Linked DNA regions of Homo sapiens: region 1 is linked to region 2. The links come from fine-mapping of genetic effects on gene expression. A gene starts in region 2. The other region holds a variant in brackets. All regions are shown on one strand. Distances are from middle to middle.

Region 1 (4,382 bases), 48 kb after region 2:
GCAGCACAGTCCTGCTGCCCCGTCTGGCTCCATTCCAGGCCCCACACAGTCCTTAGCAGACACATGAGCCGAAATCCTACCCCGGCTTCCGGGCCCGGCCCCATGCCACCTTCCTCTCGAAGCCCCCTAGACTGCCCCGATGGAATCCCTCTCCCTTAGTATTTTCAGAACACTTCCTACTGCATTTCAGAAATCCTGAAATGGTGGCCAGGCACGGTGGCTCATGCCTGTAATCCCAGCACTTTGGGAGGCTGAGGTGGGGCGGATCAGGAGTTTGAGACCAGCCTGGCAAACATGGTGAAACCCCATCTCTACCAAAAATACAAAAACTAGCCGGGCGAGGTGGCATGCTCCTGTAATCCCAGGTACTCGGGAGGCTGAGGCACGAGAATCGCTTGAACCTGGGAGACGGAGCTTGCAGTGAGCCAAGATCGCACCATTGCACTCCAGCCTGGGTGACAGAGCGAGACTCCGTCTCAAAAAAAGAAAAAGAAATCCCGAAATGTGTATTTCCCACATCTTAATCTGTGAAACCGACATAATCTACAATTTCACAACAATGACTGGCAACATCTGTCCTTCTGGAATAACGGTGTGTCTCAGAACGGGCGGCGGTCTCATGGCCGACGCTCTCTCTACCGCCCCTTACATTTGGTTCACGGTGGCATCTGTGTCTCCCCTACTGAGTGATCTGTGTACCCCCCGGGCCCTCCTGCAAGCAGAAGAGTGGGGCTGCGGTCAAGGGGACGCCACCGCACGGAGCACACGGGATGATGGGGACAGACTGAGTGCCAAGGTGCTGTGGGGGGAGGTGCCAGACTGGCCCGTGCCACCAGCACCAGCCTCACAGGCCGTCCCCGAGCAACTGACACATGGCAGCCTAGGGACTGAGGAAGCCCCCGGCATGAATCCACCCCTGCTATCATGGCCAACTAGGTTCCGAGGACGGCGAGGAGATGCCACACTCCCCTGCCTGGGGTGCTGGCGGGGGGAATGGAGGGCAGCGCCAGCCGTACCTGTGATGTCCAGCTGCTCCTCCATGCTCTGCATGTAGAGTGGGCATTTCTGCTGGATAAAGTACAGGAGCTCGATGGAGTTAGACATCCAGAAAAGAATGGGCTGCAAGTCTGGAACCAGATCAGCCATGGCGCAGCTGGCCAGCGAGATGGGCTCCTGGCTACCAAGACAGAAAGACTAAGAGTTACGCGGGGACCCGACCCTCAGGAGGCTGAATCTACCACTCTTTCTACATAAGGATGCGCGTTTTCATGGGACGCTGACAACAACTGCAACCATCAACCTGACACTGCTGGGCGGGGACGTTTAACAATACGTGTACCCGCCTGGCACCTGCCTACAACACCCGACAGCCAGAGGACCCTACAAACCTAGCAGGAAGACAGCTGGGCGCCACAGCCATTGGTAAAAAACCTCGGTAAGTAGATGGCTTGCATGTCTTCTCTTTTGGAATGAGATCATAAAGTGGCTGTGAATGCTGAGAGAATGTGTGCCAATATGTGTGTGTGTGCGTGTATGCGTGCATGGGGGTGGGGGCTGGTCCATGGTTTTCAGAACAAGAAATGTCAGTTCCATTATATTATTTAAGTTAACAAGGTAATTACCAAAGGAAATAAACAATAATAGAGCTATTTTGGGAGGTGCACAAAGGCAAAATGAAATGCTACTTTATTAAAGCAGGAAGTCAGAAAATCACGTGTAAAGTCCATGAATCGCGGGGTAGCAGGCAAAGCATGAGATTTGAAGACTCAGAGGCAATCGTTAGAAACCCAAACTGAGGCCAGGCGTGGTGGCTCACGCCTGTAATCTCAGCACTTTGGAAGGCCAAGGCGGGTGGATCACCTGAGGTCAGGAGTTCGAGACCAGCCTGGCCAACATGGCAAAACGCCGTCTCTACTAAAAATACAAACATTAGTCTGGCTAATTATTAAAAAC[CT/C]TTTTTTTTTTTTTTTTTTTTAGAGACAGGGTCTTGCTATGTTGCCCAGGCTGCTCTTGAACTCCTAGCCTTAAGCAATCCTCTTGCTTTGGCCTCCTAAAGTGCTGGGATTATAGGCATGAGCCACCATGCCTAGCCCTGATTCTGTATCCATGGGGTTCATTGTTACTCTGAGTAACAAAAGCAGAAGTAGCTCAGGCCCCTGCCTGGCCAGCCCAATGCAGGTAGGGGTTGGGGGGGCGCCCTTCCCTCCCAGGCCTGCTGCCTTCCGGCTCAGTGCTCCCTTTTCAGGGGATGACGGCATCATCAGGGCTGCCTCCTCCCTCAGCGGCAGCCTCCACCGTCAGGCTGGCTTCCAAGCTCAGAGCTCCCAAACCCTTTCTCCCACATCTCTGGCACCAGCCGCAGGATGTGTCTGTCTGGTGTGACTTGACACTGCCTTCTAGTGTCCTCAGCAGCCTCTTGGAACGTCTGAGGGGTGGACGTGGCAAGGCTGTGCTGAGGTGCCCGGGTAATTCCTCATTTAAAATGCCAGCCACACATCTTTCTCACAGGTTGCTCATCTGGTCCATGCACCAGCTCAGCATTAAGCCACTGGACAAGATGCCTGGGACGCCCCAGGGTCCTGGCAGCTCAGAGGATGCATTCATCCCTAAGTCTCCATAATCGCACCTGGCGGACACAAATAGCCGTGTGCCCCTGAGCAGTGAGCAGAAGGCCGTGTGTGCCCCTGAGCAGTGAGCAGAAGGGATCCTTTTGCAAACAGATCAAATCACACAGATCTGACTTGGGTCTGCCTGGGGTGTGGAGGGCGGCCCTGCTGCCTGCCCCATGGCTGGCCCGGGTACCCCTTGTCACCTGTGTCCCTTACTGGGGGGATTCTAAGGGGTGAGCCAGGCAGCTGCCACTCTGCTGGCCGCAGGGCATGGTGCCAGCCCAGTGCCTGACCCCAGTCCCGGGGCAGAGCCAGGCTCAAGGCTGGACGGCCGTCAGAGTGACCATCGCGTGCTCAGTCCCAGGTGTGTGGACCCGGCCTGGGGTCCTTTGAAAGGTGCCAAGCCCACAGGAAATGCCACCAGGACCTTAAGGCAGCCGGTTTGTGAGGGCATCTGGGAAGGGCTGAGGCCCTGTTTTCCTCCCTGTTCTTTCCCCAGCTGGGCAGCCGAGCAGGGCTGGGGGAGGAACCCCAGGCTGCGTCCCAGATTCTCCCCGGTACCCAAAGTGTTGCCTGCTCTCTCTGACGTCACTTCACTTTTGTCCACAAACAATGTTGACCTCTCTCGCGTGCACACACCCGGGGAGGGAAGAAACTGGACTGAGACCATCTCTCCTGTTTTTGGCGGCTAAGCAGGTCCGCTGCCTGCTCATGTGTCTGGCACAGCTCAAAGTCCTGCTCCTTTTTGCCCATTCTGGACACTGGCTTGAAGGACACGCATGTCTGCAGATGGGCAGAAGGAGCTTTTTATACAGTTAAAGAAGGATTCGCTGGGCTCTTCGGAGACTAATTCCATCTTGTTTTCAAAATTTGCTGCCCTTCTCAATTTCACCGGAACCCGGAGGGTAGACAGGCCTGTCCCAGGAAACAAGTGACCAGGCTTTGCAACTGGAGTTTCGGGATCAGACTCGGGCCAGGTTGGCACTGAACGCGCCCCCACCTGCCAACCTGGGGCCATGTGAGTGGGGGCCCAGGGAATGATGAAGATCCAGCCCATCCTACCCAGGCCTGTGTGGACGGAGGAGCAGGTCTGGTGGAAAAGGAAAACCCATGTTGTTCTAGAAGAGGGCAGAGGGGAAGGGCACTCGGGGGGGGACAGCACAGCCTGGCAGGAGGAACAGGCGTAGCTGGCTGGGGCAGTTCTAGAAGAGGGCAGAGGGGAAGGGCACTCAGCAGGGGCAGCACGGCCCGGCAGGAGGAACGGGCGCAGCTGGCTGAGGCAGGCTGGTCAAGGCGCGGGTATCTCCTGCGGGTGGAGGGAAGCACTGGAGTCCCACTCCTGGGAACCAAGGCGATGGAAACACTCGCAGGGCCCACAAGGAGCACAGAGACCAGAGCATGGGCTGCCGGCCACAGCCTATGCATGCCTGTCGCGTCCATCAGGAGAGGACCAGGGAATGGCGTGCCCCAAAAAATGGGTCAGCCACATCCACCCACCTGGAGAGGTTGTGAGTGAGAAAGCAAACCACAGACAGCTCAGCCAGCGCCATCACACCCAGGAAGAAAGGAAGAAAGAAAGAAAAAAGGAAAGAGAGAGAGAAAGAAAAAAGCCGGGTGCGGTGGCTCACGCCTGTAATCCCAGCACTTTGGGAGGGCGAGGTGGGCAGATTACAAAGGTCAGGAGTTCAAGACCAGCCTGACCAACATGGTGAAACCCCGTCTCTATTAAAAATACAAAAATTAGCTGGGCGTGGTGGCATGTTCCTGTTATCC
Region 2 (4,345 bases):
GGGTGCATCTCTCAGAACCCCAGAAGACATACAATTGTGCACTGCAGCTCTATTCGTTATTGTCAAAATCTGGAAACCGACCAAATATTCATGGACGAACAAGAAAAGCTAAGTACGGTACGATTCCATTTGCATGAAGTATAAAAAGACGCAAAACTAATCTCTGGTGATAAGAGAGACTAGCAGTTACTTGTGGGGGAAGGGAGTGGGCGTTGACTGGGAGGGGGCCACAGCGGGGAACCTCTGGGGAGCTGGAAATGGTCTAGGTCTTGAACTCAAACCATGGCAGGAACATTTACACCACAGAAATTATCAAACACAAATCAACCCCCGGCTCCCCACCGTCGCCAATGGAGCCGAGGCTTAAGACATTTGCAAATTTACCACCGATTTCTAGAAATGTAAATAGTGGAGTTCATTTAAGATTTGTGCGCTTTGGTGTGGACGTTTTACCCTAGTAAACGTTAAACACTGGCAGTAGGCTTTCCATAGACTACCTGTCACCAGCTTTCCTTTGCCAGTCTTCAACCTGCGGCTCCAGGGGCACCCGCCGCACTCCACCGACTCCCATCCACCGCTCACCATCCACCGATTCCCATCTCTTCATTCTCTGCACCAGGTGCCCTCAGACATCACTGGGCGCCCTAGGGCATCTCAAAGCCATGTTTGGAACTCCTGCAGGAAGCCCTCCCTCCTCCTCCTCCTTCCTTCCATCCAGGGGTCTTCTCGGGGCTTATCCCTTCAAGGCCTAACCTTGACCCACCCTATCTACGCAACATTGATTCCCACCCCTACCCTATTCCCCAGAACCTTCAGCAGTGCCTAGCGCAGCTAGGACTCAATCATCGCTTGTCCACTTAATGAATGACTCTTGGCACAAATTTCCTCGTCCTTTTCTGCCCCAGACAGACACCCCACAAACATGAAGTTACCCTTGATTTTTCCACTTTCTTCCTCCTGCCTGCAAATTCCTCAATCACAGGTGGTGCAAATCCTACCTCTAAATGGTACTGAATCTGCCTACTTTCGGGGCAACCTCCCTTACCTGGACCACAACTGCACCAGCCTCCTTTCTCCCTCAGGAGCTTCCCAATCCATTATCTCCCCTGCGGCCAGAGATCAGTTTCCTCCTGGGGTGCATTTAAGCCATAGGAAGCAGATCGCTACCCTAGGCCCGTCCCTCCCCACCCCTTGGTCTGGACACCCTCTGGGCTCATCTTAGGCCGCAGTCGCCGAAGCCTTCCTCCTCCGGTTGGACCCCCAACCAGGTCAGGCTGTCATAGCGTTTATCATGACGCTGGCGTGTCGCCCTGTGTCCCTCGGCCGTCTGCAGGATGGCAAACTTATGGCCAGGGCCCAGCACATTTGGGCACCCAACACATCCGTTAGAATGAACAGAAACTTCCCCTCTCCGAGCCTGTGGCCTCATCTGTAAAACAGAGATCGCGAGATCCCATGAATACCGTGGGGATTGAATAAGGGATTTTTTCGTTTCAAGCAGCAGGAACAGCGCGGGATGGGTGCTCAATAAATGGGAGCTCAAAAAATCCCCAAAACTGCCCAGAGCCGCGGCTATTCCTTGCAAACTGCTGGACACTGCTGGGCTCAGCCCACAAGTGTCGGAGTTTGCATCAGATTTTCAGGTCGTACTTAGCAAAGGGACTCCCGCACGACAAAGCTGTTTACGAAACAGAAACCAGAACTGGGGCAGTGACACTTTGGGGCCAGCAATGCCCTCTCCCAAAGCCCCAGGCGCCCAATTTCCGCCGAAATGCTTTCCGGGGTCGAAGGGCGCCGGGGCTCCAGAGTGCCGAGGTTCCGGGGTCGCGCGATTCCGCAGCTCCCAGGCGCCGACCCGGACCCCCGGCCGCGGCACCTACGCCCCGCCCCAGTCGCTCCACGCCAAAGCCCATTGGTCGGCAACCTGTCCCTCCTGCTCATGTGATGCGGCACGTGACGCAGCCACGTAAGGCCGCTGCGCTCACGTGACGCGGTCCCGGAAGTTGACCGGGGTGCGGAGCTCCTGGGCTGCAGCTCCTGGAGTTTCCGAGGTTCGTGCGCGTCTGGTGGCGGCGGCGTGATGTTCTCGGCAGGAGCGGAGAGTTTGCTCCACCAGGCCAGGTACGGGGGAGCTGCGGCCCCGGCCCTCCTTCCTGCATCTCTCCCTAGGGGCACACGGGGGTGGGTCTCACAGGGCAGGGGCTTGGGCGCCAGCCTTGCAGGAACCCGACTGGACTCGCCCTCGAGACTTGGGGATCGGGTAAGGCAACACGGCGGCCAGGCTTGGGGTGAGGAGGTCGGGGAGGGTCATGGTGGGTCCCCGGAGGAGGTGACACTTGAGCAGAGTCTTGGTGAGTGAAAGCAAGTGGGGTGGGACCCAGTCGACAGTTTAGTCAAAGGCTTGGCGGTGAGAACTCCGCGTCTGGCAGGAAATCGGGCAGCCGGGAGATTTCAGTGCCTCACAGTCAAGAACGCAAAGTCACAGTGTCCGGAGGCCTGCTAAGGAATAAGGCTGTGTGCCAGGCTGGGGAGCTGGAGGCCATCCGAGGGCTTTGCGGAACCGTGGGAGGGTTTTGTGACTTAAAAAGATCTCTCTTGCGCGGATGTATTAGCTAGGCTGAGAAATCACCCTCCAGGCTGGTTTCAGGCTGTGTCTGGACTCCCAGTAACGAGTGAGTAGCTCCTTCCTCACCAACTAACCAGTCATGGGGGAAAACAGTGTAAGCCAGGACTGAACAGACTCACGGTCCACCAAACAGGCAAAGACTTCATACTACATGTTTAAAAGAAGAAAATGCTGACCGGGCGTGGTGGCTCACGCCTGTAATCCCACCACTTTGGGAGGCCAAGGCAGGCGGATCACCTGAGGTCAGGAGTTCGAGACCAGCGTGCCCAACATGAGGAAACCACGTCTCTACTGAAAATACAAAAAAAAAAAAAAAAAAAAAAATTAGCCGGGCGTGGTGGTGGGTGACTGTAATCCCAGCTACTCGGGAGGCTGAGGCAGGAGGATTGCTTGAACCTGTGAGGTGGAGGTTACAGTGAGCTGAGATGGCGCCACTGCACTCCAGGCTGGGGGACAGAGCGAAACTCCGTCTCAAAAGAAAAAAGAAAAAAAGTAAAGAAAATACAGCCAGCACTACAGCCCCTTGGTAAACGTAAACAAACTTGGTGAGGTGAGAGGCCGAAGCAGGAGAAGTGCATGAACCCAGGAGGCCGAGGGTGCAGTGAGCCAAGATCGCACCACTGGACTCCAGTCTGGGTGACAGAACGAGACTCCATGTCAAAACAAACAAGCAAACCTGGACTCAGAGCTAGACCAATTGGTGGGAAAGATTCGGGTGGTTGAAATTGCTGTGATTATAGTGAGTGAGGTCTTGAAGGCAGGTTAAGTTCTAAAGCCCGAACAGGACAAAAATCTCTGATCAAAATAACCCTTAAGAGTCCACTCATTAGGAAGAGGCTTGGTGAATATGCAGCACCATCTCCCAGCAGCTCAACATAGGCAACCTTCCCTTCAATCCTGGACAGATATGTCATTCATGTGAATGTGGGGACTATATGAAAATGAAAAATACTGGCATCTCAGCATGTAACATGTTAATCCCAAGGTCCTTGCCAAGAGACAAGGAAAAACACCCACTGAGAACTTCATTCCCAGTCACATTCTGCTCAAGGTCATAAACTTGTGACATGAAAAACAAAAGGAAGAGCCCTCTTTATTTATTTATTTATTTATTTATTTATTTATTTTTATTAGAGTCTCTTTTGAGACAGAGTCTCCCTCTGTCGCCCAGGCTGGAGTACAATGGCGCAATCTCAGTTCACTGCAACCTCCGCCTCCTGGGTTCAAGCAATTCTCCTGCCTCAGCCTCCCAAGTAGCTGGGATTACAGGCGCCCGCCACCACACCCGGCTGATTTTTTGTATCTTTAGTAGAGATGGGATTTCACCACATTGTCCAGGCTGGTCTCGAATTCCTGACCTCAGGTGATCCGCCTGACTCGGCCCCTCGAAGTGCCGGGATTACAGGTGTGAGCCACCATACCCGGCTGAGCCCTCACTATTTAAATACCTGTTTCTCTGCCTCCCTGGCTCGGGTGGGCAGCCGTTTTTGAGGATAGAGTGTGGTTGAATTTCCCTATGTAACATACATGAGTTCTGCAGTTGCCCTCTGTTAGGGTTTCAAGAAGGTTAATCTATTAGGGCTTACCAGTTTTCACAATATTCTTAAGCCTGTGATTTCTGATGATATTTTAAAATAAATGACTGTAGTTTGAGGGTTAAGGTTTGGAGCCGGCCAGGCGCAGTGACTGGCCCACGCCTGTAATCCGAACACTTCGGGA

Which allele goes with the higher level. Alleles are on the strand shown, and positions count from the first base shown. SD is a standard deviation of normalised expression in the study named.
In carriers of allele C in region 1, the expression in subcutaneous fat of the gene that starts at base 1,988 in region 2 tends to be lower than with CT alone (small effect, 0.37 SD a copy in TwinsUK).

The links. PIP is the estimated chance that this variant, and not a neighbour inherited with it, causes the effect. A credible set is the group of variants that fine-mapping cannot tell apart.
Region 1: its variant is the best candidate, but not a certain one, in a credible set for the expression of AP5Z1 in subcutaneous fat (TwinsUK, PIP 0.66).

The regions. Positions count from the first base shown.
Region 1 is chr7:4,821,378-4,825,759 of GRCh38, forward strand. RADIL (Rap associating with DIL domain) reads right to left here. Exons shown (of 15, transcript NM_018059.5): 6 at 1,017-1,177. Among named protein-coding and RNA genes, the nearest start is that of SNORD165, 14 kb to the right of the region's middle. The variant CT/C (reference allele first, on the strand shown) is at 1,954.
Region 2 is chr7:4,773,636-4,777,980 of GRCh38, forward strand. It overlaps AP5Z1 (adaptor related protein complex 5 subunit zeta 1), which reads left to right and starts at 1,988. Exons shown (of 17, transcript NM_014855.3): 1 at 1,988-2,121. The coding sequence starts at 2,081. RefSeq lists enhancers at 730-1,406, 1,407-2,083, 1,457-1,506, 1,547-1,636, 2,067-2,136 and 2 more and a silencer at 1,817-1,946.